Regions from separate parts of the Homo sapiens genome. Here all the other regions are linked to region 2. The links come from fine-mapping of genetic effects on gene expression. A gene starts in region 2. Each other region holds a variant in brackets. All regions are shown on one strand. Distances are from middle to middle.

Region 1 (9,666 bases), 31 kb after region 2:
ACTCTGGCAGGAAGGAGGCAATCACCTGCGCTATTCCTGGCTTCATGGAATAGAAGCATCTGTGCTCCTAGGAATTACGCCACCAGTGATTTTAGAGCTCTTATGCTCTTCCTGGGTGATAGAATGGGCTTAATTTGACTCAAGAATAGTACATCAAAACTCTTAATTCCATCGAGATTGATGCATTTTTGGGGTTTTATGCTCTAAAAGGCCTTTTGCTGTGCAGAAGGAAGAGAGAGGTGGACAGAAAGGGCAGTGGGGAGAAGATGAGACTAAAAGGTGGAAAGTCCAGGTCTGGATCCCTCCCCACCACACACCTGCTCTGTGGCCTTGAGAGAAACATGTAATTTTTATAAGCCTTAGATTTCTAATATGTAAAATGTATGTAATAGTTTTAGCTGCACTCCTTCCTTGCCAGGTTGATATAATAATCAAATAAGACTGGTCTCTGGGTCAGGCACAGTGGCTCATGCCTGTAATCCCAGCACTTTGGGAGGCCAAGGTGGGTGGATTGTCTGAGCCCAGGAGTTTAAGACTGCAGTGAGCTGTGCACTTGGCCTGGGTGACTGAGCAAGAGCCTGGCTTTTTCTATTTATTTATTTATTTTTGAGACAGAGTCTCACTTTGTTGCCCAGGTTGAAGTGCAGTGGCAATCTCGGCTCACTGCAACCTCTGCCTCCCAGGTTCAAGCAATTCTCCTGCCTCAGCCTCCCAAGTAGCTGGGATTACAGGTGCCCACCACCACCCTAACTAATTTTTATATTTTTAGTAGAGATGGGCTTTCACCATGTTGGCCAGGCTGGTTTTGAACTCCTGACCTCGTGATCCACCCTCCCAAAGTGCTGGACCTCCCAAAGTGCTGGGATTACAGGCATAAGCCACTGCACCTGGCCTTATTTATTTATTTATTTAGGCAGGGTCTCACTCTGTCACCCAGGCTAGAGTGTGGCAGCGCAATCATGGCTCACTGCAGCCTCGACTTCCTGGACTCAAGCGATCCTCCCACCTCTCCAACGTGGTTGAGGGCTGCAGCGAGAAAGATGTGAAAGGGGCATTTGGGGGCGCAGGAAGGCGGGAGGTGGCAATTGCTAAGGGCCCCGCCGTGTTCCTGTCACAGCCCTAGCTACAGCTTAGAAGGTCACAATGGACGTTCACCTGTTGTCTTTGATGTTTAAATCAGCACCGACTTCCCATGAGGAGGATTTTTTTTTCCTGTCTCTCTTAAAAAAAAAAAAAAAGGCCCCTGCAGTGTGGGTGTCTGCAGTGTTACGGGGATTATTAGTTGAGGATAACCACTGGGATGTGTTTCTGGAAGAAGTGGTGCTGAGGAGCACTCCTGGCCGGAGGAAAGCTGTGTGAGGAGGAGGAGGAGTATGGGGTAACTGGCTCAGTTTGCCTTGGCTCTTTCTGTCGGACTCATACAGCAAAGCATCTGCTGAGACATCATTTGTGTCTCCTGTGACAGCCAGAGACAGCAGGTCTTGCTCTCCCCAGATCATATCTGAGATGCTGGCTCCTGCTCTCTGAGCTGAAGGCTGCAGCTGCTGAGAGAGGACGAGGCACTGAGTCAAAGCAGCTGCACAATGTTGGGGAACAGCTGGGTACTGAGGACTCTTCTCCCTGTCCTTCTACAGGTTGGTGAATTCTGGCCTTACGTCAGTCTGTTGTTCAGCTTTGTCCTCGGTACTCAGCACTAATCAGAATCTCACGCACCTTTACCTGCGAGGCAACACTCTCGGAGACAAGGGGATCAAACTACTCTGTGAGGGACTCTTGCACCCCGACTGCAAGCTTCAGGTGTTGGAGTAAGTCCTTTGGTTTATTACAGCAATGAGAACACATGGTGGCCAAGGGTGGAGGGACGTTTAGGCAGAGTGGCCACAAGATAATCTGTATCTTAGAAGTGAGGTGTCTTCTTAGTGTTTGCCTTGTTACAGGATCATGGGACTGGGAGGAGTCCTTCCAGATGATATAGATGTAGGAACTTGAGTCCTTACCATCACAGTTTTCTGTACCACAAAACAAGGAGGGCAGTATGACACTTACATTTTATGGAAATGTAGGGAAAGGCACAGAATTTGGTAAATCAATGAACAAACCACTGTTACTAATTTGATCTGTGCAATGCAGTGGATTTGAAAAAGAGAGAGAAGAATAATTACCAGCATACAAGGCTGCTTGAAGCTAGTTAGTCCTGTGCTCCTGTGCTTTTTTTTTTTCCACCTGAAACAAGACAGGCTAAGATGCTAAAATCTTGGGGAGCTAGGGGGATGGTTAAGGGGACATTTTCTTTAAATCACCCCCTTTTTGCAGATTAGACAACTGCAACCTCACGTCACACTGCTGCTGGGATCTTTCCACACTTCTGACCTCCAGCCAGAGCCTGCGAAAGCTGAGCCTGGGCAACAATGACCTGGGCGACCTGGGGGTCATGATGTTCTGTGAAGTGCTGAAACAGCAGAGCTGCCTCCTGCAGAACCTGGGGTGAGTGTGCTCTGCAGAGATGCCCGTGGTGGGACTCTGAGTTCTCAGGAAACGTTGACTGTTATCAAAATCCAGGATGGCTCTCGCTTCATTTGCAGCCACTCAAGATTAGGTTGGGCCTGGGTCAGTTGTGGTGGATATTTTAAAATAGAGAATATGGGGTTAAACTACACATTCCACTTCACTGAGATGGTTAGAATCACCAAGGCTAAGCTGGATTTCACCCACATTCCCCAAAGAAACACAAGCCCTCATGCGATCATGGCCAAGGAGGATTCTGTTCTACACAAGGAACCGAACTTCGTAGAACTCGTCTATGGGTCATCCAAATTGGAAGGGTCTTTACATAGTGGGGATCTTGTTGTTTTGTTTCTGAGGATTTATTTTTTTTTTCCTTGAGACAGAGTCTTGCTCTGTCGCCCAGGCTGGAGTGCAGTGGCATGATCTCGGCTCACTGCAAGCTCCGCCTCCCGGGTTCACGCCATTCTCCTGCCTCGGCCTCCCAAGTAGCTGGGACCACAGGCGCCTGCCACCACACCCGGCTAATTTTTTGTATTTTTAGTAGAGTTGGGGTTTCACTGTGTTAGCCAGGATGGTCTCCATCTCCTGACCTCGTGATCTGCCTGCCTCGGCCTCCCCAAGTGCTGGGATTACAGGTGTGAGCCTCCGTGCCTGGCGGTTTCTGAGGATTTCTAAATGGGAAAAGAGTGCTCCAGGAATAGCAAGATGGGAAATTACACGAAATTCGACAGTGTGTCAGGATATTGCCAGCCCACCTCTGTGATACTACTGAGGTAGTCGTCTCCTCTCTAGCAAGAGCTTCCTGGCGAGTCCCACGGTTCTGTCAGCCGTGATGATTGCACTTTTCCCTGAAGACGTTTTCACTGCTTGGCTTTAAGGCCAACATGCTCTCCTGGGTTTTCTCCTATTTCATCAGATCCTTCTACTCAGTCTCCTTTCTGGCCTCTTCTTCATCATCCTGACCCTTATGTGTTGAATCCTCAGAGCTTAGTCGCTGGGCTAATTTTTCTTCCCTACACTTTCTCCCTCATTTAAATTATCTGGTCTTCTGGCTTCATGATATGTGTGCTGTGGCCTCCAGATTATATGTCCATAAATTCTGTGTCTCCGTGCTTGGCTGATCTTTCTTCTTGAAGGTTTAATAAACCTCTCAAACGTCACATCTAGATCCACACCCTTGCTACTCTCTTCTACCCGAAACCTGATTCTTCCCCATTTCAGTCGATGGTCACTTCCTCCAAGTTGCTCGGGCCAAAACATTTCTGGTTCTGTCGTCACTGTCTCTTTTTCCTTATAATCATGTCCAATGTGTCAGCACATCCTGTGAGCTCTGCCTTCCCAGCTTGGCCACTCCCTGACCACTTCAGGCCAGCTTCACGGCTTCTTCCTTGGCTCAAGCCACCATCACCTGGTGTCTGGATTGTCATGGTGGCATTCTGACAGGTCACCCTGCATCTGTTATTCTGATTTTAGCAGACAAGGGATTCAGCTAAAACGTAACTCGCATCATATCACTCTTGTCAACATCGTCTTCTTATCACTTTCATAATCAGAGCAACAAACTCATGGTGGCTTCCATGCCCCACATAATCCAGCCTCTCCTGCTTCCGAAGATTCCGCTTCTCCCAACCCTTGCTTATTCTGCCCCAGTACAGTGATCTCCTTGCTGTTTTGCAAGAACACTGTCATCTCTGGATTTTTGCACTTGCTTTTCTTCTGGCCTAGAACTCTCTCCCCTTCAGTATCCACCTGCATTATTCCCTGTACCTTCCTAAATTCTCTGCTTAAAGGTCTTCTCTGCGAGGCTGTCTTTGACTATTCTACTGAAAATAGAAGCACTTTTTCTTCTCTTCTCATTCTCCTCTGCAGTGTAGCACATCTTATGTGCTATGTCATTTTCTTGTTTATTTATTATCTATCTCTGCTCCCAAAATATAAATTCCATTAGTCCAGGGACTTCTGTCCATATTAATGATCTCAAGGCTGAGAACTTGTTGGAATGCAGGTTTGAATAAATACAAGTTTGAATCAGCCTTGCATCCTTGTGCCAACATAATGGAGCACATTTGCTGCAGGACAAGCCAATATTCCCAGAGCTAAGAGAGATGGGGGAACAAACAAAGGATTGGTCAGGTCAAAGCTGGGGACACTGCTACATGTAGCATCACTGACCTAGCCCTGAGGGACATTCTGGACCCAGGCTGAGGGACAGGCTCAAAATAGATTGAAGAATCCATGAATGCAATCAACCCGTTTTCTCAGGCTGCGATAACAAGCTGCTTTAGACTGTGTGACTCAAACACAGATTTATTATCTCACAATACTGGAGGCTAGAAAGTCCAAAATCAAGTCTCTGATGAATTTGGTTGCTGGCGAGAGTCCTCTTCCTGATTTGCAGATGGCTACCTTCTTGTTATGTGATTGCATGGAGGGAGGGGAGGCAAGGGAGAGAAGACAGGGGAGAAAGAACAAACTCTCTGATATCTCTCCTGTAAGGGCACTCACCCCATACTGAGGGCCCCACCCTCACAACTTCATCTAACTCTAACTACTTCCCAAGGGCCTCACCTTTAAGTACCGTACATTAGGGGTTCGGGCTTCATCATGGGAATTGTTAAGGAAGACAAACATTCAGTATATAACACCACCAAATTGAGATGGTTATAAATGGTGCAGGACAAATGGGTGGATTTATTAGTTAAGTTGCAAGGGAAACTTTATTAAAGAGGAGGAAGAACTTACATCGAAGATGTGAGAGGCATCCTGGGCAAATGCAATGTGTAGAATTGATCAGGTTAGTGACTAAATGAACATAAGGTAAAAAAATTTACAAGACAGTTGAGGAAGCGTAAATGCTGACTGGACATACAGTGATACTAAGAAATTATTGTTAAACGATTTTGGTGTGATAGTGACATTGTAATTATATTTTAGTGTCACAAAGTGAATTATTGATAGATGCATTAAATGCAGTATTTAAAATAATCCATGGGTGGGAGGAGTGGGTGGGCAATAGAAGAAACAAGTTGACATGACCTGTTTAATTGTCGAACTTGGGTAATGGACACAGGGGGTTCATTATACTATTTTCTATACTTTTATGTATGCTTAACATTTTCCCAACTAGATAGTTAAAAATATAACAGGAACCACATTGGGCACTTAGAGCTTTTTTTTTTTTTTCCCCACATTTTTATTGGGAGCCGTGGGAGGGGCCTCCTCTGTCATTGGAGGTGCTCACAGTTTCTTCAGCCACTCCAGGCTGGGGTCCTGGGGGTCTGAGGCTCCCAGTGACGAAGGACACGACGAGCACCGGCTCCTTGGCCCAGGCATTCTTGAAGAAGGTGCGGAGTCTCGCGGCCATCTTGGTCTCGGCGGCGGCGACGGCGGCGAGGACGCGGAGCACTCTGGGAGTTGTGGTCCCTCTTTTTTTTTTTTTTTTTTTTTTACATTTTAGAAGTGTGTGGAGTTTAGGGAAATGAAGAGATGAGACTTTTAAGGTTAACGACTCTGACAGAGTTATCTGAAGAGTGCAACCCAGGCTTTCTATTTGCTTTTACAGGTTGTCTGAAATGTATTTCAATTATGAGACAAAAAGTGCGTTAGAAACACTTCAAGAAGAAAAGCCTGAGCTGACCGTCGTCTTTGAGCCTTCTTGGTAGGAGTGGAAACGGGGCTGCCAGACGCCAGTGTTCTCCGGTCCCTCCAGCTGGGGGCCCTCAGGTGGAGAGAGCTGCGATCCATCCAGGCCAAGACCACAGCTCTGTGATCCTTCCGGTGGAGTGTCGGAGAAGAGAGCTTGCCGACGATGCCTTCCTGTGCAGAGCTTGGGCATCTCCTTTACGCCAGGGTGAGGAAGACACCAGGACAATGACAGCATCGGGTGTTGTTGTCATCACAGCGCCTCAGTTAGAGGATGTTCCTCTTGGTGACCTCATGTAATTAGCTCATTCAATAAAGCACTTTCTTTATTTTTCTCTTCTCTGTCTAACTTTCTTTTTCCTATCTTTTTTCTTCTTTGTTCTGTTTACTTTTGCTCATATCATCATTCCCGCTATCTTTCTATTAACTGACCATAACACAGAACTAGTTGACTATATATTATGTTGAAATTTTATGGCAGCTATTTATTTATTTAAATTTTTTGTAACAGTTTTGTTTTCTAATAAGAAAAATCCATGCTTTTTGTAGCTGGTTGAAAATTCAGGAATATGTAAAACTTTTTGGTATTTAATTAAATTGATTCCTTTTCTTAATTTTAAAAAAGAGTACCTAGAAATTTTTCAAATT[A/T]TTTCTCTAAACCACTAAAGATAAATTAAATTGTTTGGTGCATTTTAAAAGTCACTTTGGCAAATGATTCCATTGTAGATAATTTTTAAAACGTTACCTCACTCTAACTGTAATGAGTGGAATTTCATCTTTGATAGGATAGGAGATTGAAAATCGTGGAGGGAAAGGTTTGAGAGTATCAGAGCCTGCGCTCCTAACTAGAAGTATTATGTAGAAGATGCATCTTGCTTTCAGTTGATAACAGCTTATTTTGGATTTATCCCATCCGAGGAACAGTTCATCTATTATACTTCACAGAGCATTAAGTTATAAGGAAATATTTACTAATTGCTTCTCTACACATGGACAACTCTTAAACCGCATGGAATTGCTCAGGATGGAAATACTATTTCCTCTGTACAATTAGCCATCAAAGTAGCCACACTTTGCTACTCAAAGTGTAGTCTATGAACTGTCGATATAAGGAGCTTGTATAAGAATGTAAAACAATCACATTATTAAACATACCTTTTAGATGAGCTGACATTTAAAAAAAACCCTGAAGACTATTTTTATAAGGGAAACAGTATGAGATTTACATTCTGTTGCAAACTCTGTCTTGTTAGCACTTCTGAGCAGCACCAACTGGAGACTGGGTTTCTGCATCTTGGTGAACTATTACCGACTGCCTTCCTGCTACAAACACTTTGATAACCTATATAAATAATGTAATCAGAAACACATAGCTGAGCTTGAAAGAGAGAAAGAGAACCTTTGGGCATTAGGACATTAAAACTGGCCAGGTTGCTGAGAATGCCATTATTTCATTCCTTTTTATGGCTGAATAGTATTTTTCCATGGTATATATCTCACATTTTCTTTTTCTTTTTTTTTTGAGATGGAGTCTTGCTCTGTCGCCCAGTCTGGAGTGCAGAGGCGCGATCTCGGCTCACTGCAACCTCCGCCTCCCGGGTTCAAGCAATTCTCTGCCTCAGCCTCCTGAGTAGCTGGGATTACAGGCGTGTGCCACCATGCCCAGCTAATTTTTGTATTTTTAGTAGAGATGGGGTTTCACCATCTTGGCCAGGCTGGTCTTGAACTCCTGACCTTGTGATTCACCCGCCTCGGCCTCCCAAAGTGCTGGGATTACAGGCATGAGCCACTGCGCCCAGATGGTTCCATATTTTTCCAATTGCAAATTGTGCTGCTATAAACACGCATGAGCAAGTATCTTTTTCGTATAATGACTTATTTTCCTCTGGGTAGATGCCCCGTAGTGGGATTGCTGGATCAAATGGTAGATCTACTTTTTGTTCTTTAAGGATCCACAATGTTTTCCATCGTGGTTGTACTAGTGTTTGTACTAGTTTACATTTCATGGAAAAACTTTCTATAGAAGAAAATGTGAACTACAGAGAAAAAAAAATCAAAATCACAGGAAGAAGATAGCAATCTACTTCATTCCTGGAATTGTCTGAAAAAGTCGTGTAAAATTTGTGGAGATTTAAGTATATGGAGAAAAACACTTATTCATTGTAAGTAAAATAAGATTGTATTTCAGCTTCATCTTGTGTATACTTAGGAGTAATAGAAAAGAGACAAATGGGGAGAGAATAAAAGAAATATAGGAAGAGGAAAAGAGAAAAGAATCAGGAAATTGGAAGTGAAATAATTCCACACATACTTATTGAAGTCTATTTAAACAATGCTTAAAAATATATGGCCTCTTAGAATTATACGTTTAAAATGAACTTTGTCGCTATGGGATTTGGGGCATTATAACAGGAAGTGAGATGTTTGAAGACAGGGTTTTTGAGCTCTCTGGGTATTAACTCCTTAAGTGAAAGATGCTCTGAGTGCACAATAGACTTGTGCTGTGTTCTTTAATTGATGGAGATGCTACATCTCATGTCCTCATCATCCACAGAGCCTCCAGATCCTGGCCAGAAGTCTCCTCAGAGCCCCCTTCATATCTTTATTTCTCAGGGTGTAGGTGAAGGGATTGAGAGTGGGGGTGATTATGGAATAGAAGAGAGAAATAAATTTGCCCTGCTCTTGGGAGTAGCTGGAAGGGGGCTGCAGATACATGTAAATCGCAGGTAGGTAGAAGAGGGAGACGATCATCAGGTGGGAGGAACACGTCCCAAAGGCCTTGTGTCGTCCCTTGGAGGACTGGATCCTGAGCACTGCCCGGGCAATAAAGCCATAGGAGAGAAGGATGAGAGCCAGGGGCACCAACACGAAGAAGGCCACCAGCACAGCCAGTATGGTGTCATTCACAGCGGTGTCAGCACACGACAGCTTGATCACGGCCGGCACCTCACAGAAAAAGTTGTTCAGCACCTGCCGCCCGCAGAATGGCAATTGCACCGTCAGGACCACCTGCACGAAGGAGTTGCCGAAGCCACTGAGCCAGGCCAGAGCCACGAGCTGCTGACAGAGAGCACGGTGCATGAGAACGGCATAGTGCAGGGGCTTGCAGATGGCCACGTAGCGGTCCAGGGCCATGGCGGCCAGGACGATGCACTCCGTGCATCCCAGCCAGTGGAAGACTGCATATTGCACAGTGCAGCCTCCATAGCTGATGGTCTTCTGGGAACTGCCCATGTTGACCAGCATCTGAGGGACTGTCGTGGTGGTGTAGCAGAGGTCCAGGAAGGACAGGTGACTGAGGAAGATGTACATGGGGCTGTGGAGTTGAGGATCCACCCGGGATGCCAGGATGATGGCGACGTTCCCCAACATGGCCAGCACATAGGACAGCAGGAGGACCACAAAGAGAGGGAGTTCCAGCCACGGCCTGTCAGACACACCCAGAAGGATGAAGGCTTTAGGGGAGTCCCCTAAGAAGCTATGGTTGTCACTTTTCATGTTGCGGCATTTTCTGGCACT
Region 2 (10,087 bases):
TTAAGTTCTTTTTAAATTTTTATTTATTTGCGTATTTTTATTTATTTATTTATTTGGAGACAGGATTTGGCTCTGTCACCCAGGCTGAAGTGCAGTGACACAATCTCAGTTCACTGCAAGCCTTGACTTCCTGGGTTCAGAAGATCCTCCCACCTCAGCCTCCCCAGTAGCTGGGGACCACAGGTGATTTCAACTTGAAATCATTCATGCAATTTTAGTTTGGAATTCAGTGCTGTGAGTTCCAGTCCACTTAAGTGAGCTTTGGGTATTTAATGGAAGCAATTATTTTTCTTAAATGTACAAGAGTAAATTATTATTATTTTTTTTTGCATGAATGATGTATGGAAAATCACCGCGTTTTACTTTTGTGAGTTGACTTATTTATTTGTGTTGATTTTGATATTCCCAAATCTGAAACAAAATTTTTTCAGAATGCATAATAACACACAGAGTATGGTGGTCTTTCATTGACAAGTTTTTATGTATGATTAGAGTATCTTTTCAAGATTCATAATCTGCATTTTTTTAATATAGGGTCTCACTCTGTCACCCAGGCTGGAGTGCAGTGGCACAGTCCTAGCTCACTGCAGCCTCAATTTCCTGGGCTCAAGCGATCCTCCCACCTCAGCGTCCTGAGTAGCTGGTACTACAGGCATGCACCACCACATCCGTCTATTTTTTAATTTTTTGTGGAGATGGGGTCTCACTATGTTGCCCAGGCTGCTCTTGGCCTCCTGGCTTCAAGTGATCCTCCTGCCTCAAACCTCCCAAAGCGTTGGGATTACAGGTGTGAGCCACTGAAACTGGCCTGACCTACAATTTGAATACTACTGTACAGTTTACATTTTGCTGTCAGGTATTATTTTATTTATTTTTTCCTCTCTACAATAATGTATTATAGATCAGGTCTTGTTTTATTTGAGCCTCACAGGAAAGCTGAGGTGAGGGTCGCAGGCAAGGAGTCGGACCACAGGAGTGGTCGCAGCATTCAGCGGAGAGTGAAGCAGCGAAGGCTGGAAACCTCATCTGCTTCTCGTGAACTTCCCACTGCCCCAAGTGACTGATGTCCTTACACAATTGCAGCCAGTTCGCCAGCTGCATGAGTGACAGTGGCATAATTGACGATTGCCAAAAACGGAAACAGCCCAACTGTCCTTTGCCTAGGGAATAGAAAACCAAATTGTGGCCTATCCAACCCATGAAATACTTAACTGCAGTAAAAAGGAATAAGCTACTGATCTGAATCTCACAGGCATCATATGAAGTGAGCGGACTCGCTCACCAAAGGCTGCACACTGTTTATGTGATGCTCTGGAAAAGGTAATGCTTTAGCAGGTGGAAGAAGTGGGGCTGCGGGTGGGGACAGAGGCTGACTATGTGGCAGCACAGTGGGTGGGGACAGAGGCTGCACAGGGAGCATGTGCAGCTGATGCAGGTGCTCTGTGTGGGCTGTGGTGGTGGGTAGCTATATGCTTGTGAGCACTCACAGGCCTGTGCATGAAAAAGGTGCGAATATTTATTTTATTGTACATATTTCAGGTGTATAACATGGCAGTTTGATATACATAGTGAAATGATTGCTGCAGTCAAGCAAATTAACATGAGTTAACATAGCCACCATCTCACATAATAATCTTTCTTGTGGGTGGTAAAAACATCTAAAATCTCTCTTAGCAAATTTCAGGTTTATAATATTTTTAACTATCGTTCCCACACTGTTTGTTAGATCTCTCGGCTTATTTATCCTACATAACCGAAATTTCGTACCCTTTGACCGTCATTTTATTTCCTCTACCCCGGTAACTCTCTGTTTCTATATATTCAACTATTTTTTTTTGAGACAGGATCTCGGTCTGTCACTCAGGCTGGAGTGCAGTGGTGTGATCTCGGCTCACTGCAGCCTCGACCTCCCAGACTCAAGCAATCCTCCCACCTCAGCCTCCCAGCCTCTCAAGTAGCTGGGGTGACATGTGCACACCACTGCACCTGGCTTCCTTCCCTCCCTCCCTCCTTTCTTTTCTTTTTTTCATTTTTTTGGTAGAGGTGAAGCCTCACTATCTTGCCCAGGCTGGTCTCAAGCTCTTGGGCTCAAGTGATCCACTCACCTCAGCCTCCCAAAGTGCTGGGATTACAGGTGTGAGGCACCACTCCTGGCCTAACTTTTTTTTTTTTTTTTTTTAAGGTTCCACATATGAGTGAGATCATGTAGTGTTTGTCTTTCTGTGCCTGGCTTATTATGCTTTGTGTAAAGTCCACCGGGTTCATCTATGTTGTGGCAAATAGCAGAGTCTCAATTTTTAATACTAACTAAGATTGTATTGTGTATATATGCCCCAAACTCTTTATTTATTCATCTGTCAATAGACACTTGGGTTGTTTGCCTATCTGGACCATGGTGAATAATGCTGCTATGAACATGAGTGCACAGATGTCTTTGTGAGGTGGTGATTTTATTTCCTTTGGATACACACTCAGAAGAAGGATTGCTGGGTCATACGGTAGTTCTATTTTTAATTTCTTTAGGAACCTCCATATTGTTTTCTGCAATGGCTGCACCAATCTGCATTCCCAGCAGCAATGTGCAAGGGTTCCCTGTTCTTCACGCCCTAGCCAATGTTTGTCTCTTGTCATTTTGCTAATAGCCATCCTAACAGGTTTGAGGTGGTACCTCATTGTGGGTTTGGTTTGCATTTCCCTGATGATTAGTGATGTTGAGCACTTTTTTGTATACATGTTGACCATTTTTGTTTCTTTTTTAGAGAAATGTCTATTCAGTTCCTTTCTTCATTTTAAAAATCAGATTATTTGTTTTATGCTTTGAGTTGTGTGAATTCCTTACATATTTTGCATATTAACTACTTATCTGATATATGGCTTAAAACTATTTTCTTCCAATTTGTTGGCTACCTTTTCACTCTGTTGATTGTTTCTTTTGCTATACAGGAGCTTTTTACTTTGATGTATTCCCACTTATTTATCTTTACTTTTGTTCCTTTGCTTTTGTTGAGACATTAAAAATATCCATGCCAAGGCTAATATCAAGAAGTTTTCTCCTCTGTTTTCTATTTTTTATATTTAGTTTTTTATCTGTTTAGAGATTGGGTCTCATTCTGTTACCCAGGCTGGAATGCAGTAGTGTCATTATAGCTCACTGTAACCTCAAATTCCTGGGCTCAAGTGATCTTCTTGCCTCGGCCTCCTGAGTAGCTGGGCTACAGGTGCACAGCACCATGCCTGGCTAATTTTTTTTTTTTTAATTTTGTAGACACAAAGTCTCACTATGTTGCCCAGGCTGACTGTGAACTTCTGGCCTCAGGTGATCCTCCTGCCTCAGCCTCCCAGAGTGCTGGGATTACAGGCATGAGCCACCATGCCTGGCTTCTTCTCTATTTTCTTCTAGGAGTTTTACAGTTTTAGATCTTATGTTTAGATCTTTAATCCATTTTGAGTTGGTTTTTGTGTGTGCCAAGTTTTATTCTTTTGCGTGTGGAAATCCAGTTTCACCAAAAGCTTAATTTTTCAAAATCTTATATTTTTCTTGATTTTTTTTTCACACTTCTATAGCCAACATCTTTATTGAAGAGATTGTCCTTTCTCCATTGTGTCTTCTTGGTGACCTTGTCAAAGAATTAGTTGACTGCATATACTTGAGTTTATTTCTGTTCCACTGGTCTATGGGTCTGTTTTTATAAAGGCATGGATTTTTACTGCATATGAATTATACCTAAATTTGTCTTTTTTTTTTCCTTTTTCTGGAGAATGGGGTCTCACTATATTGCCCAGGCAGGTCTCGAACTCCTGGGCTCAAGCTATCCTCCCGCCTCTTGCCTCCCTGAGAGCTGGGATTACAGGCGTGAGCCACTGCGCCCGGCTGAATTATACCTAAATTAACTTGACTAAACAAACAAAAACAAAAAGATCCCAGGTTCAGCCAATGAGCTCCTTTTTTTTTTTTTGAAATGGAGTCTTGCTCTTGTCACCCAGGCTGGAGTGCAGTGGCACAATCTCAGCTCACTGCAGCCTCCACCTCCCAGGTTCAAGTGATTCTCTTGCCTCAGCTTCCTGAGTAGCTGGGATTACAGGTGCCCGCCACCACACCCAGCTATTTTTTTTTATATTTTTAGTAGAGATGGGGTTTCGTCATGTTGGCCAGGCTGGTCTCAAACTCCTGACCTTGTGATCTGCCTGCCTTGGCCTCTCAAAGTGCTGGGATTACAGGCATGAGCCACTGCACCCAGGCTGAGCTCCTTTCTTTTGGAGCATATTTGGTCTGCTTTCTCTCTAGCTTCAGCACCTGAAGTTTTTGCTGCTCCTGCCTCAGCTCCAGCCCCGAATGACACCTTTCACCTGGTTCATGGAGACTCAGGTCTGCTGTCATGCCCCTAAGCAGGACTAGATGCCTCTCTCATGTTGTAGAGCATTCTCTCTGCAGTTCTGTAGAAAGGTGGTAGTCATCGGAACCAACTGCTTATTCTAGCTTCTCTGTGCCAGGCTCTGTTTTAAAGGCCTCACGTTTAGCCATTCACTCAGTGTTTTCTGACAGCCTTCTAGGATAGGTACCGTTATTTGGGTTGATGTAGTGCTTGGTCAAATGCAGTATAATGAAGGGATCAAGGAGGGGGCAATTCCAAGCAAAACCACTTGTTCATCCATCCTGAGTCTAGGAGATTTGGAAGATCTAAAGAAGTAGCAGGCAATTATTGTCACCCTTTTACAGGTATGAGGCACAGACAGACCCAGTCATTTGCTGACATCCCTCCACTGAACTGGGTGCTCGTCCTTTTCACTCACCCAGAGGCTGAGCGAGTGCCTCTCACCCACCAAGCTCTGTTGAACTTGTGCCTTTGCCGGTCTGTGGTCCTGCGGCCGTCTCATGAGCTGCAGAGTAGGTCTGTGTGTGTCTCTCCTCAAGCTACTCAAGCTGAGGCTTTGTGTGCATGCCTGCCACATACCAGCCATTCCGTGAGTGTTAGTGGAACAGGTGAGTCAATGAGTCAGGGAGTAAAATTTGTGCTTTAAAAGTAGAACATGTCGGAGAGAACCTGTACTGCCTTCCAGCCATCTTGCTGTGAGAGGACAGGGCATGGACTCTGGAGTTTGAAGGCTGGGTCAGGTCATGCTCTGGATTCTTTACTCACTCGCATGGCATGTCCTTAGTTTCACTTCCCTCACTCTCAGTGGAGCCGTTGCAGCGGGCAGTGTCAGAGGCAACATCCATTTAGCACTGCCGATTTGACCCCCAGCCCCATCTCATACTGGCCTCCCACCCTGCTTCTGTGGGGTGCCTCAGAGGAGAGCAAGGTGAACCCCAGTATGGAACCGAGACACGGTTTTGACAACACTGTTGATCCCATTTGGAAAATCCAGCTATGTGATTAACCATTAGTCTCTCTGCCTCTGCTCTGATGTAAGTGGAGACCACATCCTTCCTGCCCCTTCTGGGGCTGCGACTGCTATAAATTCATTGCATTTCCTCTCTAGCTGTTCCTGAGGCTGGCATCTGGGTAAGTCCAGCTCCGCGGGGCAGTGTGGGCGACAGGACCGGGAGAGCAGTGGGGGAGATTGTGTTCAGAGGGCAGAACTTGTCCTGGTTAATGCACTAGGAATTTCTTCTGGCGTCTCCAAGGTTGTGCTTCAACAACATTTCTGGAATGTTCTTTTATCATTATTTGGGCTCTACGTGTGCAAGTTCGTGTGTGTGTATGTGGCGGGGGGAAGCGGGGAGGACAGCGGCAGCAACCATAGTTTACACCCACGACTTCAGCAGATTTGCCCAGTATCCCTCCCAGGGGAGAAGATGGATGGGATATACAGAAGGAAACAAACCTCCTTAAAGACCAAAGGGCAGCAGATTTTTGTGCTGGTGTTAGGGTGGAAGGAGCACAGAAGAAAGGCAGAATCCTGATGCAGATGGAAGGACTGATGGGGCAGGAGCTGGGAGGGTATGCGGAGCTAATAGGGCTGTCTGGAGAGCAGTCACCTCAGGATGGGCAGGAGCTGGGAGGGTATGCGGAGCTAATAGGGCTGTCTGGAGAGCAGTCACCTCAGGATGCACAGGGCTGGGTTTGCAGGGCTCAGGAGGCGAGGAGTAGATAGGCAGGAATGGAGATGGGACGGGAGAGATGAGTGAGTCTGAGGCATCTTGACATTGAACTGCAGTCACAGAAATTCCAATTTGGAGAGCTCCACCGTTTTCCAGGCTCTCTGCCTCCCTTGAGTGTTATTTATGGCTTTAGGTTGAGGTGCTTTGCCAAATAGAGTATAATCAAGGGATCAAGGAGGGAACAATTCCAAACAAAGCCAACTTGTTCATCCATCCGGACTCTAGGAGATATGGAAGATCTAAAGATACAGCAGGTGATTGCTAGTTTTTGTGGAACTCACAGTCTAGTTGGGAAGACTATGTTGGTGAATGCTGCAGTGATACACCTGTGATAAATGCTGGGGAAGTGTGTCTTTTAGTCATCTATTTTGTTGTCTTTGTCTTTGTCTGACTGAAACAAGTGATGGAAGACATGGTCTCATATCTCTGGTCAAAATCCTGGCTCTGTTCCTTCCTGGTTCTAAACCCCTCGGCAGGCTTCCTAGTCCCCCTAAGACTCAGTTTATGCATCTATAAAATGGGGCTAGGAATAGGTGCACCTCATAGAGCTCTGTGCAGGTTAGATGGGGAAAAACATCAGTGAGTGCCTAGCCTGTGGAAAGCTCTAAATTAATGTGAATTATAATGATAACAATTGCGAATTTTGCAAGGAGACATTAAAGGATGTATGTTTTTATTTATTTTATTTTATTCTATTTTATTTTTTGAGATGGAGTTTTGCTCTTATTGCCCAGGCTGGAGTGCAGTGGTGTGATCTTGGCTCATCGCAACCTCCGCCTCCTGGGTTCAAGCGATTCTCCTGCCTCAGCCTCCCGAGTAGCTGGGATTACAGGTGCCTGGTACCATGCCCGGTTAATTTTTGTATTTTTAGTAGAGACGGGATTTCTCCCTGTTGTTTGGTGAGCCTGGTCTCCAACTCCTGACCTCAGGTGATCCGCCCACCTCGGCCTCCCAAAGTGCTGGGATTACAGGGATGTATGTTTTTATTATTCTCCATTATGCACTCCCAGCTTCATCTCACTTCAATCCACTGGTTGATAGAAGTGCAGTCAAAGACTGTCCCCTCCTCTGCAAGCTTTTATGTTCTCTCTCCTCTCTCCCTAGCCACGTCCTGTTCTGTTATCAACACACTTACTCACCTCCTGGCCTTCTCCTTCTATTGTCTCTCATCCCTCTTCCCTCACAAAAACAGAAGCAAAGAGCCAGAGCCTTCAGTTTGGAGGAACTGAAAACATTCTCTTCTGCTTTCTCATTTTGTAGATGAGGAAACTGAAGTTGAGGAATAGTGAAGAGTTTGTCCAATGTCATAGCCCCGTAATCAACGGGACAAAAATTTTCTTGCTGATGGGTCAAGATGGCATCGTGAAGTGGTTGTTCACCGTAAACTGTAATACAATCCTGTTTATGGATTTGTTTGCATATTTTTCCCTCCATAGGGAAACCTTTCTTCCATGGCTCAGGACACACTCCTGGATCGAGCCAACAGGAGAACTTTCTGGTAAGCATTTGGCTAACTTTTTTTTTTTTGAGATGGAGTCTTGCTGTGTCGCCTAGGCTGGAGTGCAGTGGCGTGATCTTGGCTCACTGCAGCCTCCACTTCCCGGGTTCAATCAATTCTCCTACCTCAACTTCCTGAGTAGCTGGGATTACAGGCGCCCGCCACCACACCCGGCTCATTTTTGTACTTTTAGTAGAGACACAGTTTTGCCATGTTGGCCAGGCTGGTCTTGAATTCCTCAGCTCAGGTGATCTGCCTGCCTTGGCCTCTCAAAGTGCTGGGATTACAGGCGTGAGCCACTGTGCCCGGCCTTGGCTAACTTTTCAAAATTAAAGATTTTGACTTGTTACAGTCATGTGACATTTTTTTCTTTCTGTTTGCTGAGTTTTTGATAATTTATATCTCTCAAAGTGGAGACTTTAAAAAAGACTCATCCGTGTGCCGTGTTCACTGCCTGGTATCTTAGTGTGGACCGAAGCCTAAGGACCCTGAAAACAGCTGCAGATGAAGATGGCAAGCACCCGCTGCAAGCTGGCCAGGTACCTGGAGGACCTGGAGGATGTGGACTTGAAGAAATTTAAGATGCACTTAGAGGACTATCCTCCCCAGAAGGGCTGCATCCCCCTCCCGAGGGGTCAGACAGAGAAGGCAGACCATGTGGATCTAGCCACGCTAATGATCGACTTCAATGGGGAGGAGAAGGCGTGGGCCATGGCCGTGTGGATCTTCGCTGCGATCAACAGGAGAGACCTTTATGAGAAAGCAAAAAGAGATGAGCCGAAGTGGGGTGAGTGGAAGGAAGACTTTTAAAAAAAATTGTGGCCAAGTGCACATAGTGTACAATTTTCCATCTTTATATATATATATATATATATTTTTTTTTGAGACGGAGTTGCTCTTGTTGCCCAGGCTGGAGTGCAATGGTGAGATCTTGGCTCACTGCAACCTCCACCTCCCGGGTTCAAGCGATTTTCCTGCCTCAGCCTCCCAAGTAGCTGGGATTACAGGCATTGCACCTCCACGCCCGGCTAATTTTGTATTTTTAGTAGAGATGGGGTTTCTCCATGTTGGTCAGGTTGGTCTCAAACTCCCGACCTCAGGTGATCCACCCGCCTCGGCCTCGCAAAGTGCTGGAATTACAGGTGTGAGCCACCGCGCCCGGCCGTAATAATTTTTAAATGTACAGTTCAGTAGTGTTAGGTACACTCACATTGTGCAACCAGTCTCCAGAACTGTTTTCATCTTGCAAAACTGAAACTCCTCACCCATTGAATGATAACTCCTCATTGCCTCATTCTCCCAGCCCTGGTAACCACCATTCTATTTGCCATCTCTGTGAATCTTACTACTCTGGGTACCTCATATAAGTGGAAACATACAGCATTTTTTCCTTTATGAGTAGTTTATTTCACTCAGCATAATGTCCTCCGGGTTCAACTATGTTGTAGCATGTGTCGGAATTCCCTTCCTTTAAAAAAGACTGTATAAATACTCCATGGTACCATATACCAAATTTTGTTTAGTTATCTGTTGATGAACACCTGGATTACTTCTACCTTTTTGTTATTGTTAATGCTGTTATGAGTGTTGGTGCACAAATATCTCTTCAAGACCCTGCTTTGAATTCTCTGGGGTATATACTCAGAAGTGAAATTTCTGAATCATACGGTAATTCTGTTAAATATTTTGAAGAACTGCTCTACTGTTTTAGATACCATCTGCACCATTTCCCACCAACAGCACACAAGGGTTCCAATTTCTCCATATCCTAAGAACACGTTATTTTTATTTATTTTTTCTTTTTTATAGTAGCCATTCTAATGAGTGTGAGGTGGTATCTCACTGTAGTTTTGATTTCCGTTTCCCTAATGATAAGTGATGCTGAGCACATTTTCACTGCTTGTTGGCCATTTATAGAGCTTCTTCAGAGAAAGTTCTGTTCAAGTTCTTTTCTCATTTTCAGACCAGGTTTGGCTTTTGTTGTTGCCTTGTAGGAGTTCTTTATGTATTCTAGATATTAACCCCATATCAGATATATGATTTACAAATATTTTCTCCTATTCTGTGGGTTGTCTTTTCATTTGGTTAACTGTGTCCTTTGATGCACAGAAGTTAGTATGATTTTTTTTTTTTTAAATCATGGCCGGGCATGGTGGCTCATGCCTGTAATTCCAGCACTTTGTGAGGCTGAGGTGGGTGGATCACCTGAGGTCAGGAGTTCAACACCAGCCTGGCCAACATGGCAAAACCCCATCTCTACTAAAAATACAAAAAAAATTAGCCGGGTGTGGTGGTGGGCACCTGTAATCCCAGCTACTCAGGAGGCTGAGGTAGGAGAATTGCTTGAACATGGGGAGTGGAGGTTGCAGTGAGCTGAGATTGCACCACGGCACTCCAGCCTGGGCTAAAGAGCAAGACCCTGTTTCAAAAAAAAATTTTTTTTTCTTGTATTGTCTTGGTTTTTTCTCTTTTCCCCTCTCACGGTA
Region 3 (10,087 bases), 24 kb before region 2:
CAGCCTCAACTTCCCAGCCTCAAGCAACCCTCCCATCTCAGCCTCCTGAGTTGCTGGAACCACAGGTGTGCATCACCACGCCCAACTAATTTTTAAGTTTTTGTAGAAACAGGGTCTCTTTATGTTGCTGAGGCTGGTTCAAACTCCTGAGCTCAAGCGATCTTCCCACCGCAGCCCTCCAAAGTGCTGGGACTACAGGCATGAGCCACTGTGCCCGGCTTAGACTGGAATTTTCAACAGGCTAATGCTCTGTGATATTGCAGTAGACTAAAGATGCAGAAGTATTAGAGACTCCAGCTGCTTTCTGCTGAGTCAGACATGAGTAAGATGTGCAAACTGTAAGTCAGTGCTACTCTTCTCAGACTTTTTAACAATTTTTCTGTTTTGGCTTCTGATACAGTAAATATCAACAGATATAATCCCCACATGAAAGCCCCCTGGAGTCCTCATTTTCAAGAGTGTAATGGGGCCTTGAACCAAATCATTTGAGAACCCCTGCCCTAGAAGTAAGAGTGTTTTAAACCCACAGCAAGCCGGCCTCTCTGGGTCTCAGTGTATCCTTTACCTAAAGGAAGGATATGAGATAAGATGATTTCTAGTATCTCCAGATCTGGACAGGTGAAGATGGCCTAACTTGGCTGGTGGGTTTATAAGCGAGTCTGACTTGTGAGGGTGAAGGGAGGGGAGGGCCCCCACACAGCTAATTGTTCCACAGCGTGGCGCTCTGGGTCTCAAAGGAGAGAGATTCCTGCTTCCCTGTTTTGCTGTTTGGTGCTTTTGTGTTCTGCTATAAGCAACAGAGAACTTGGCCAAATTAAAATGTTGCTGGGGAGTGAGTGGTAGGAAAAATTAGGATTGTGTGCTATATTTTGGGGGGTTCTTCAGAGAAACAGAATCCATAGGATACACATAGTATATGAGATTGATTATGGGAATCAGCTCACACGATTCTGGAAACTGAGAAACTCCACCACCTGCTCTCCGCAGGCTAGAGAGCCAGGAAAGCCAGTCGGGGAATTGAGTCTGAGCTTGAAGGCTGGAGAAGTGTAACTGCCCAATGGGCTCACCTTGCCCAGTGCCTGGATAGAGCCGATTTAGCAAGATAGAGGAATTGCAGTGGAGAAAGTGTAATTCACGCAGAGCCAGCTGTGCAGGGGAACGGAGTTTCGTTGTTACTCAAATCAGTCTCCCCAAACATTTGGGCAGCAGAGTTTTTAAGGACAGCTTGGTGGGTGTGAGGAAGCCAGTGAGCCAGGAGTGCTGATTGGTCAGAGATTAAATCATAGGGAATTGAAGCTGTCCTCTTGCACTGAGTCAGTTCCTGGGTGGGGGCCACAAGATCAGGTGAGCCACTTAATTAATCTGCATGATGCCAGCTGATCCATTAAGTGCAAGGTCTGCAAAACATCTCAAGCCACTGATCTTAGGAGCAGTTTAGGGAGGGTCAGAATCTTGTAGCCTCCAGCTGCATGTCTCTTAAACTATGATTTCTAATCTTGTGGCTAATGTTAATCCTACAAAGACAACCTAGTCCCCAGGCAAGAAGGAGGTCTGCTTTGGGAAAGGGCTTTGTTTTAAACTATGGTCTTTGTTTTAAACTATAGGCCGGGCACAGTGGCTCACGCCTGTAATCCCAGCACTTTGGGAGGCCGAGGTGGGTGGATCACGACGTCAGGAGATCGAGAACATCCTGGCTAACACGGTGAAACCCTGTCTCTACTAAAAATACAAAAAATTAGCTGGGTGTGCTGTTGGGCACCTGTAGTCCCAGCTACTCGGGAGGCTGAGGCAGGAGAATGGTGGGAACCCAGGAGGTGGAGGTTGCAGTGAGCCGAGATCACGCCACTGCACTCCAGCCTGGGCGACAGAGTGAGACTCTGCCTCAAAAAAAAAAAAAAAAAAGGTAAACTATAAACTAAGTTTCTCCCAAAGTTAGTTCAGCTTATGCCCAGGAATGAACAAGGGCAGCTTGGAGGTTAGAAGCAAGAAGGAGTCAGTGAAGTTAGATCTCTTTTGCTGTTTCAGTCATTAATTTTGCAAAGGTGGTTTCAGAAGCAGGAGCACTGATGTCCGAGGACAGGAGAAGGTGAATGTCCCAGCTCCGAGAGAATGTGCCTTTCCTCCACTCTTCTGTTCGGCTCCTCAACGGATGGAACGATGCCTGCCCGCGTGGGTGAGGGCGGATCTTCCTTACCTAGTCTGATAGAAACGCTAACCTCTTCCAGACTCACCCTTACAGACACACCTAATAATAATGTTTTACCACTTCTCTTGACATCTCTTCCCAGTCAAGTTGACACATAAGATTAACTTCCACAGTTGCTCTGTCCAAGTAAAGGGTTTTGCCAGGGCCCTTGACCTCAAGAGACAGAAGAACCTGAGAGCACACTGGGAGGCCATGTCACAACCCTGTGAAAGGGTGGGGAAGAACTCTCTGTCCATGTCCCTGGATTTCTAGATGTTCAGAGCTGGATGGGCCCATGAGGAGTCTTTGGTCCAACTTCCCAACAAAACAGTCTCGTTCTCGCAGCCTCCCAGGCAGGATTGCTGGGCCTTAATGTCCAGGGAAGCTGATGAGCAGGAGTGTGGGAGCGAAGCCTTCCCTTCTTCCCTTCCTGGTCACAATCAGGAAAGGGAGTTGCTCCTGCTGACCTATAGAATCTCGATTTCAAGACTGACTGATTCTACAACCAAACGAGAAAACGAGAATTCTTACGTAAGTTCAGAGTAACAACTGTATGCAAGACTCACTCCCACCTGTGTCCTCCTCGACTCATTCTTCCCCACCTCCTGTGTTTCAGTGCGTAACAAACTGCCATGGACTGGGTGGCTTATAAACAACAGGATTTTTTTTTGTTTGTTTTTTGAGACAGGGTCTCATTCTGACACCCAGGTTGGACTGTAATATGATTGATCATAGCTCACCACAACCTCAAACTCCTGGGCTGAAGTAGTCCTCCTGCCTCAGCCTCCCAAGGAGCTGGGACTCCAAGCACAAGCCACCATACCCAGCTAACTTTTAATTTTTTGTAGAGATGAGGTCTCTCTATTTTGCCAGACTGGTCTCAAACTTCTGGCCTCAAGTGATTCTCCTGCCTTGCCCTCCCAAAGATTTGGGATTACAGGAGTGAGGTACTACACCTGGCCCAACAGAAATCTATTTCTCACAGCTCTAAAGGCTGGGAACTCCAAGATCAAGACACCAGCAGGTCTGGTGTCTGGGCTGGTCTGGTGTCTGGTGAGGACCCGTTTTCTGTGCTACTGATGGCCATATATGTTCCTTAGCTATAATCTCACATGGTGGAATGGACAAGGGATTGCTCTGTGGCCCCTTTTATAAGGGCACTAATTCTCCCTTCAGGGGGCTCCACTCACATGACCTAATCACCTCTCCAAAGCCTCATCTCTTAATACCCTCATCTGGGGGGTTAAGATTTCAACATATGAATTTGGCAGAGACACGGACATTCCATTTATACCAGCACCTCTTTATATTAGGTTTCATGCAAGCAAGCCCCGTCTTTCCCCAATATCCCACCCTTCACTTCTGTCCTGGAAACTTCGGGGACGCCAATCATGTACTCTTTTTTACAGCAATTAGCTTTCTCCATCCGCTGGTGCTGCTCCGCAGTCCTCCGCTCTCCCTCCTTCCTCTTCTTAACCTGGGGAGGGCAGAGGGATGATTGTCACTAACACCCAGGACCAGCAGAGGGCAGAAGAGAGTAGCAGGAACCTCCAGTGGAGCAAAATGAGGGACTCTCCTCTCAGTTAAGCAGGTGAGCCAAGGCCAGGCCTCTGGGCTACATATACAGTCCCAGGGGGAGAGAGCGAGGTCAGGTCTAAGACGCGGGGATGCCCCAGCTCAAGATGTGCTGCAGCAGCAGCTGGAGTCGGGCTCCTGAAAAGAGTCGAGCTCAGTGTGGTTAGGAAAAACATTGCAACAGCAGTTTCAGGCTACTTCCGTTTTCTTTCTTATTTTTATCTTTAGAAGCTCAGTATATTAAAAAAAAAAAAAAAGAAATGACAAAGCAGAGTTACGAAACTCTGGTGTGTTTTAAATGTTTACATCGAATACACTTCCTTTTACAGAAAACTCAAGATTCC[A/G]GTACACTGAGCAATGATATGCTTATTTCTGTGAGCACAAAAAAGACAGTGATGAAAATACTTGACTAATGAAAAATTTGGAAGTTTGGGGTTTTTTTTTTTTTTGCAAAATGATTTCACTCTGGGACTTTTGATGTTATACCATCAGGAGCTTGAGTGACAGCCATTGTTTTATTATTATTATTTGAATTGGGGGTCTCGTTCTGTTACCCAGCCTGGAGGGCAGTGGCACAATTATAGCTTACTGCAGCCTCGAACTCCTGGGCTCAAGAGATCCTTCTGTCTCAGCCTCCTGAGTAGCTGGGACTACAGGTGCACACTACCATGCTTGGCTAATTTTTTAAACATGTTTTTGTAGAGATACGGTCTTGCTATGTGTGGTGTGGCCAGCCTAATCGCAAACTCCTGGCCTCAAACAATCCTCCCTTCTCAGCCTCCCACAAGCACTAGAATTACAAGCATTAGCCACCACACCCAGCCACAGTCATCATTAAAGGAAAAAATACTCTGTCCAGGTGCAGTGGTTCACACCTGTAATCCTAGCACTTTGGGAGGCCAAGGCGGGTATGTCACTTGAGCCAAGGAGTTCAAGACCAGCCTGGGGCAATATGGCAAAACCCTGTCTCTACAAAAAGTACAAATATTAGCCAGGTGGGTTGTGATGTGCACTTGTAGTCCCAGCAGCCTGGGAGGTTGAGGTTGGAAGATCGCTTGAACCTGGGGAGGTCGAGGCTGTGAACCATAATCAATCACGACTGCATTCCAGCCTGGGTGGCAGAGTGAGACCCTTCTCAAAAAAATATTCCGATGCTTTTTGAAATGGTAACAGAGACTTTATTTAGCACGATTCCAGCAGGGGTATTGTAATAGAGCAGAGAGAATGGACTCAACCCTGAATGCAACAAGGGAACGTTGGGATTTATGGCTAGGGAACAGGTTGGGAGTCAGTGGACAGAGATTACTAAGAGGATATAGTAAAGGTGAAAAAGATTCTGTTAGACTTTAATCAGACTCCTGAACCTGGCCTAACAGAACTTTAGTCAGGCTCCTGAACCTTCTCCTAGACCCATCTGTGCATTTCCTTATAAAATCCAGCTTTAACAAGAATCCTGCTAAGTCAGTTTAACAAGAATATCCTCATCCTTGGTATCTGACTCCTCAATGGCAGATTGGGTTCCTTATTTTTCATTATCCCCCAGGCAATGTTCAATTACCCCGGCCTGCCTTCAGCAAGAGTATGTTAGGCCAGTTCAACCAGAACCCCCTTACCCCTGATATTTCCTCTTCGTAATTTTTTATCTACTGACCCCCACCCTTCTCTTTGGTTATAAATACCCCCTCTTCCTTGTTGTATTTGGAGTCCGACCCAACCTCTCTCCCACCGCTAGATCCCACTGCCATGTTACCTACACTTATCACAAGGGTCCAGAACAAAGTCAGCCCTCCCATCCTTTAATAAGTACCATTGAATAATTTTTCCTTAACAAGGGTAGGGATATTCTTGCTAAAGTGATCTAACAGGATTCTTGCTGAAGACAGGCCAGGGTGATCAGATATCACCTGGGGGATTGTGAGGGATGAGCAACCCAATCAGATATGAGAATAGTCAGATATCAATGTGGGGAATGACTTAGCAGGATTCTTGCTAAAACTGGGCTAGGCAGGTTGATGAGAGGATGGGGGCCAAGGACAAGGCCTGGTTGAGGAGAAGATTCCGAGGAGTCTGACTGAAGTTTGGTAGAGGAGGGAATCTTTGTCACAGTTCACTGTAACATTAAAGTCTGGACTTTTTTTTCCTTTTTAACATTCTATCACACTTGGAAATGTCTTGCAACAATATTGTACTTTGAACAAAATAGTTACAGGACTATGAAAAAGAATCTTAGACATGCTACACTGTAGGCAGCATGGCCTGGACATGGACCTGTGCTTACAGCTGTATGGTAGAAAGAACCTGTGTGAAGGTGAGTTTAAGTATCGGAGTGTGAGAGGCCTTCTGAGGACACAAAGCTTCTCTGTGCCTCACCCACAATGGTGTCTTGGTGAATGCCTTTAGACTGAGTGAGCATTCATCTAGTCTGAGACTTCTTATCTACTGCATTTTTTTTTTTTTTTTGGAGAAACAGAGGTCCCACTATATTGCCCAGGCTGGTCTTGAACTCTTGGCTTCAAGTTATCCTCCTGCCTCAGCCTCTCAAAGTGCTGGGATTACAGTCATGAGTCACCACGGCCTGGTCTGTCTACTGCATCTTAAAGGAGCAGATGCTTGCTTTTTTTTTTTGAGACAGGGTCTCACACTGTTACCCAGGCTGGAGTGCAGTGGCACAATCATGGCTCACTGTAACCTTGAACTCCTGGGCTCAAGAGATCCTTCTGCCTCAGCCTCCTGTGTAGCTTGGGACTACAAGTCCATGCCACCATGCCCAGCTAATTTGTTTTTTAAATATATATATATTTTTTGTAGAGACAGACTGTTGTTATGTTGCCCAGACTGGTCTCAAACTCCTGGCCTCAAGTGATCTTCCTGCCTCAGCCTCTCGGGGTGTTGGGATTACAGGTATGAGCCACCATGCCTGGCCTACATGTCTACTTTTGATCCTGGGAATAGGCAAGCATCCTCCCTTCCCTCCTCTTTTATGATTGTTCCCTGTACATCCACCTCCAGCTCCAGGACTCTACCTCTCATCAAGGCTGACCAGAAGCAAGATGATGGAAGCCAAGAGAGCTCCTCTGCATGCTCCACTGTCTAAGCTCTGCTCTGCATCTGCCGTGATTCTTCTTCCAAACAGAAAACACCGTCTTTCTTTTTGACTACATCTGTCCTCAGAGATGGTGCTGATGGATCCATTTATAATTTATGTGAATTTAAACCTTTGCAATTTTTACATGGAATAAAAGGACCTATTTTCTGGAAAGAAAATGCTGAACAAGAGCTGAGAACCTGGGGCAATCTAAGGCAGGGGTTCCTCCCTAACACCCCTGCTGTCAGAAGCCAGCTGGTTGGCCATAGATCACTTCACCTAACACCCAGTGCCCAGTCACATTTGCCCCCAAATTGTACAACTCAAGCTTAACTTTCACATATTTTAAGATAGTGTCAGCCCCTTTTGCAATATGTAGATGATACTTTTTGTTTGTCATTTACCATTTCAAAAAAATTAAAGCATATTGAATATCTAACTTAAAGCATATTGAATATCTAGCTTGCTTTCCTCTCAGGTTACTAATAAGAATTGCATTTTTTAATGCTTAATCACATATTAAGCTTTCCATTTGGGAGTTTTGCTCTTTTGTTCTTTAAATGGTGTCTCAGTCCATTTGGGCTGCTATAACAAGGTCCACAGACTGGGTAGCTTATCAACAACAGAAATTTATTTGTCACAGTTCTGGAGGCTGGAAAACCAAGATCAGAGCTCCAGCATGGTCAGGCTCTGGTGAGGGCTGTCTTCCAAGTTGCAGACTGCCAACTTTTTGTTGTATCCTCACATGGCAGAAAGAGGCAAGAGAGCTCTCTGGCCTCTTCCTATAAGGACACTAATACCATTCAAGAGGGCTCCATTCTTGTGAGCTAATTACTTCCCAAAGTTCTCACCTCCTAATACCATCACACTGGGGATTTCAACACATGAATTTTAGTGGGGCACAGTCAGTCCACTATAAATGAATATTACCAATATTTCCATTTGCCTTCTTGCATGGCCTGCAGGAGGTCAGTGTTTTTTCTCCTCTAATGATATTGAGCTGCGGTTGGGCCCATAATGGTGAAAAGACCCGATGAAGGCCATCTCGTCCATTCAGGCTACTCTAATAAAATACCATGAACTGGGGGTGCTGATAAACAATAGAAATGGATTTCCCACAGTTGTGGAGGCTGGAAGTTCAAGATCAAGGCACAAATAGACTCAGTGCCTGGTGGGAACCCATTTCTTAATTCACAGATGGTGTTTTCTTGCTGTGTTTCTATACCCTAATGGAAGGGGCAAGGCAGCTCTTGGAGGTCTCTTTTATAGGCACTAACGCCATTTATGAAGGCTGCACACTTATGACCCAATCACCTTCCAAAGTTCCCACCTCCAAATATCATCACCTTGGTGACTAGATTTTAACATGAATTTAGAGGGGACACAAATATTTAGACCACAGCAGGTCTGTTAGCTTCACAATAGTCATGGTTCTGGCTTTCAATTCACACATATTATGGGGTCATAAAATATGTATCACCACATAAATAAATTCCCTAATCTTAAATCACTATCATATGTAATATTGTATGATGTGTTATTTGAAATAATGAAGCAAAAAGAAGACACAATAACTTAAATGCGAAAATACAGAAATTTAGAAAAAAGAAAAGTCTAATCTATTGTTTTACTACACAACTAGAATTGTCCCCACTTCGGGGAATTTGCTTCTAGCTTTTCAAAAGCTTATATGTCAGCCAGGTGCTGTGGCTCATGCCTGTAATTCCAGCACTTTGGCAGGCCGAGGCCTGAAGGTTGTTGAGCCCAGGAGTTCAAGACCAGCCTGGGCAACGTGTGGAGACCTCATCTCCATTTTATTTTATTTTATTTTATTTTATTTTATTTTATTTTATTTTATTTTATTTTATTTCATTTTATTTCATTTTATTTATTTATTTATTTTTTTGAGATGGAAACTTGCTCTGTCGCCAGGCTGGAGTGCAGTGGCGTGATCTCAGCTCACTGCAACCTCTGCCTCCTGGGTTCAAGCCATTCTCCTGCCTCGGCCTCCTGAGTAGCTGGGACTACGGGCGTGTGCTACCACGCCCAGCTAATTTTTGTATTTTTCAGTAGAGGCGGGGTTTCACCATGTTGGCCAGGCTGGTCTCAAACTCCTGACTTGTGATCCACCCGCCTCGGCTTCCTACAGTGCTGGGATCACAGGCGTGAGCCACCACGCCCAGCCAATAATTCTTTCTTTTAAGTGTTCCTACTATTTATTGTTTTTAATTATTCAAAATCTTATTTTTATTTGTACATGCACAGGGCCTAAAAATTAAAATGCTATAAATGGAACACAATGAAAAACAATTTTTTTAAAAAAATTCAGATCTCTAGTTTCCCAATTTCTCAGTTCCTCTCTCCAGAGGCAAACACTGTTACCCAAATTCTTATAAATCCTTCCAGAAAGATGGCTATGTTACTAAATACCCCTTTCCTTGTATTTGCACAAATAAAAGCACCTAAAAACTGAATTTTGGACACACAGACATATGCTCGATTTTTTTTTGTATGTAGAACGAAATAACTTTTTCTCATGCTTTTTCAAAACCAAGTATTTTTTGGTTCTGTCAAAATTGATTTATACACTCTCCTAAAAACCCATGTGACTGAAAGTACCAGCGCATGAGACAAGGAGGCTAATCAAGATATAAATGAACATATTGCTCTGTACTTTGAGACAGTCTAGAGCCTGGCGCAGTGGCTCACGCCTATAATGCCAGCACTTTGGGGGGCCCAGGTGAGAGGATCACTAGATCCCAGGAGTTTGAGACCAGGGCAACATAGTGAAACCCCATCTCTACAAAAAAATTAGCTGGGTGTGGTGGCATGTGCCTGTAGTCCCAGCTACTCAGGGGGCTGAGGTGGGAGAATTGCTTGAGCCTCGGAGGTCGAGGTTGCAGCGAGCTGTGATGTTGCAGCGAGCTGTGATCGTGCCGCTACACTCCAGCCTGGGCGACAGAGTGAGACCCTGTCTCAAAAAAAAAAAAAATAGAAAGGAAGGAAGGAAGGAGAAAGAAAGAAAGAAAGAAAGAAAGAAAGAAAGAAAGAAAGAAAGAAAGAAAGAAAGAAAGAGTCTTGTAATGTGCTTAGTAATGTAGTTGTTAGAGATGCTGGCACGAGTTCTCATCTTGTCACGAACAGGTTAAAAAGCAGTTCCCAGGCTGGCCCTTGCCTGGGAACCACACCAGATAGCAGATTGTCCCAGTTTTGAGATATCACATACAGTATTTCAATGAACA

Evidence for each region.
Region 1: its variant is fine-mapped to the expression of NLRP3 in whole blood (TOPMed, PIP above 0.99).
Region 3: its variant is fine-mapped to the expression of NLRP3 in whole blood (TOPMed, PIP 0.93).

The regions. Positions count from the first base shown.
Region 1 is chr1:247,442,338-247,452,003 of GRCh38, forward strand. It overlaps NLRP3 (NLR family pyrin domain containing 3), which reads left to right. Exons shown (of 10, transcript NM_001243133.2): 8 at 1,635-1,805; 9 at 2,314-2,484; 10 at 6,068-6,480. The coding sequence ends at 6,167. It overlaps OR2B11 (olfactory receptor family 2 subfamily B member 11), which reads right to left. Exons shown (of 2, transcript NM_001004492.2): 2 at 6,845-9,666. The coding sequence starts at 9,645. The coding sequence ends at 8,692. It overlaps LOC124904575 (a long non-coding RNA gene), which reads right to left and starts at 5,890. Exons shown (of 2, transcript XR_007067005.1): 1 at 5,747-5,890. The variant A/T (reference allele first, on the strand shown) is at 6,796.
Region 2 is chr1:247,410,690-247,420,776 of GRCh38, forward strand. It overlaps NLRP3 (NLR family pyrin domain containing 3), which reads left to right and starts at 5,484. Exons shown (of 10, transcript NM_001243133.2): 1 at 5,484-5,504; 2 at 7,364-8,388. The coding sequence starts at 8,112.
Region 3 is chr1:247,386,573-247,396,659 of GRCh38, forward strand. LOC107985375 (a long non-coding RNA gene) reads left to right here and starts at 3,204. Exons shown (of 2, transcript XR_001738574.1): 1 at 3,204-3,776; 2 at 6,770-7,290. RefSeq lists a silencer at 6,269-6,551. The variant A/G (reference allele first, on the strand shown) is at 4,105.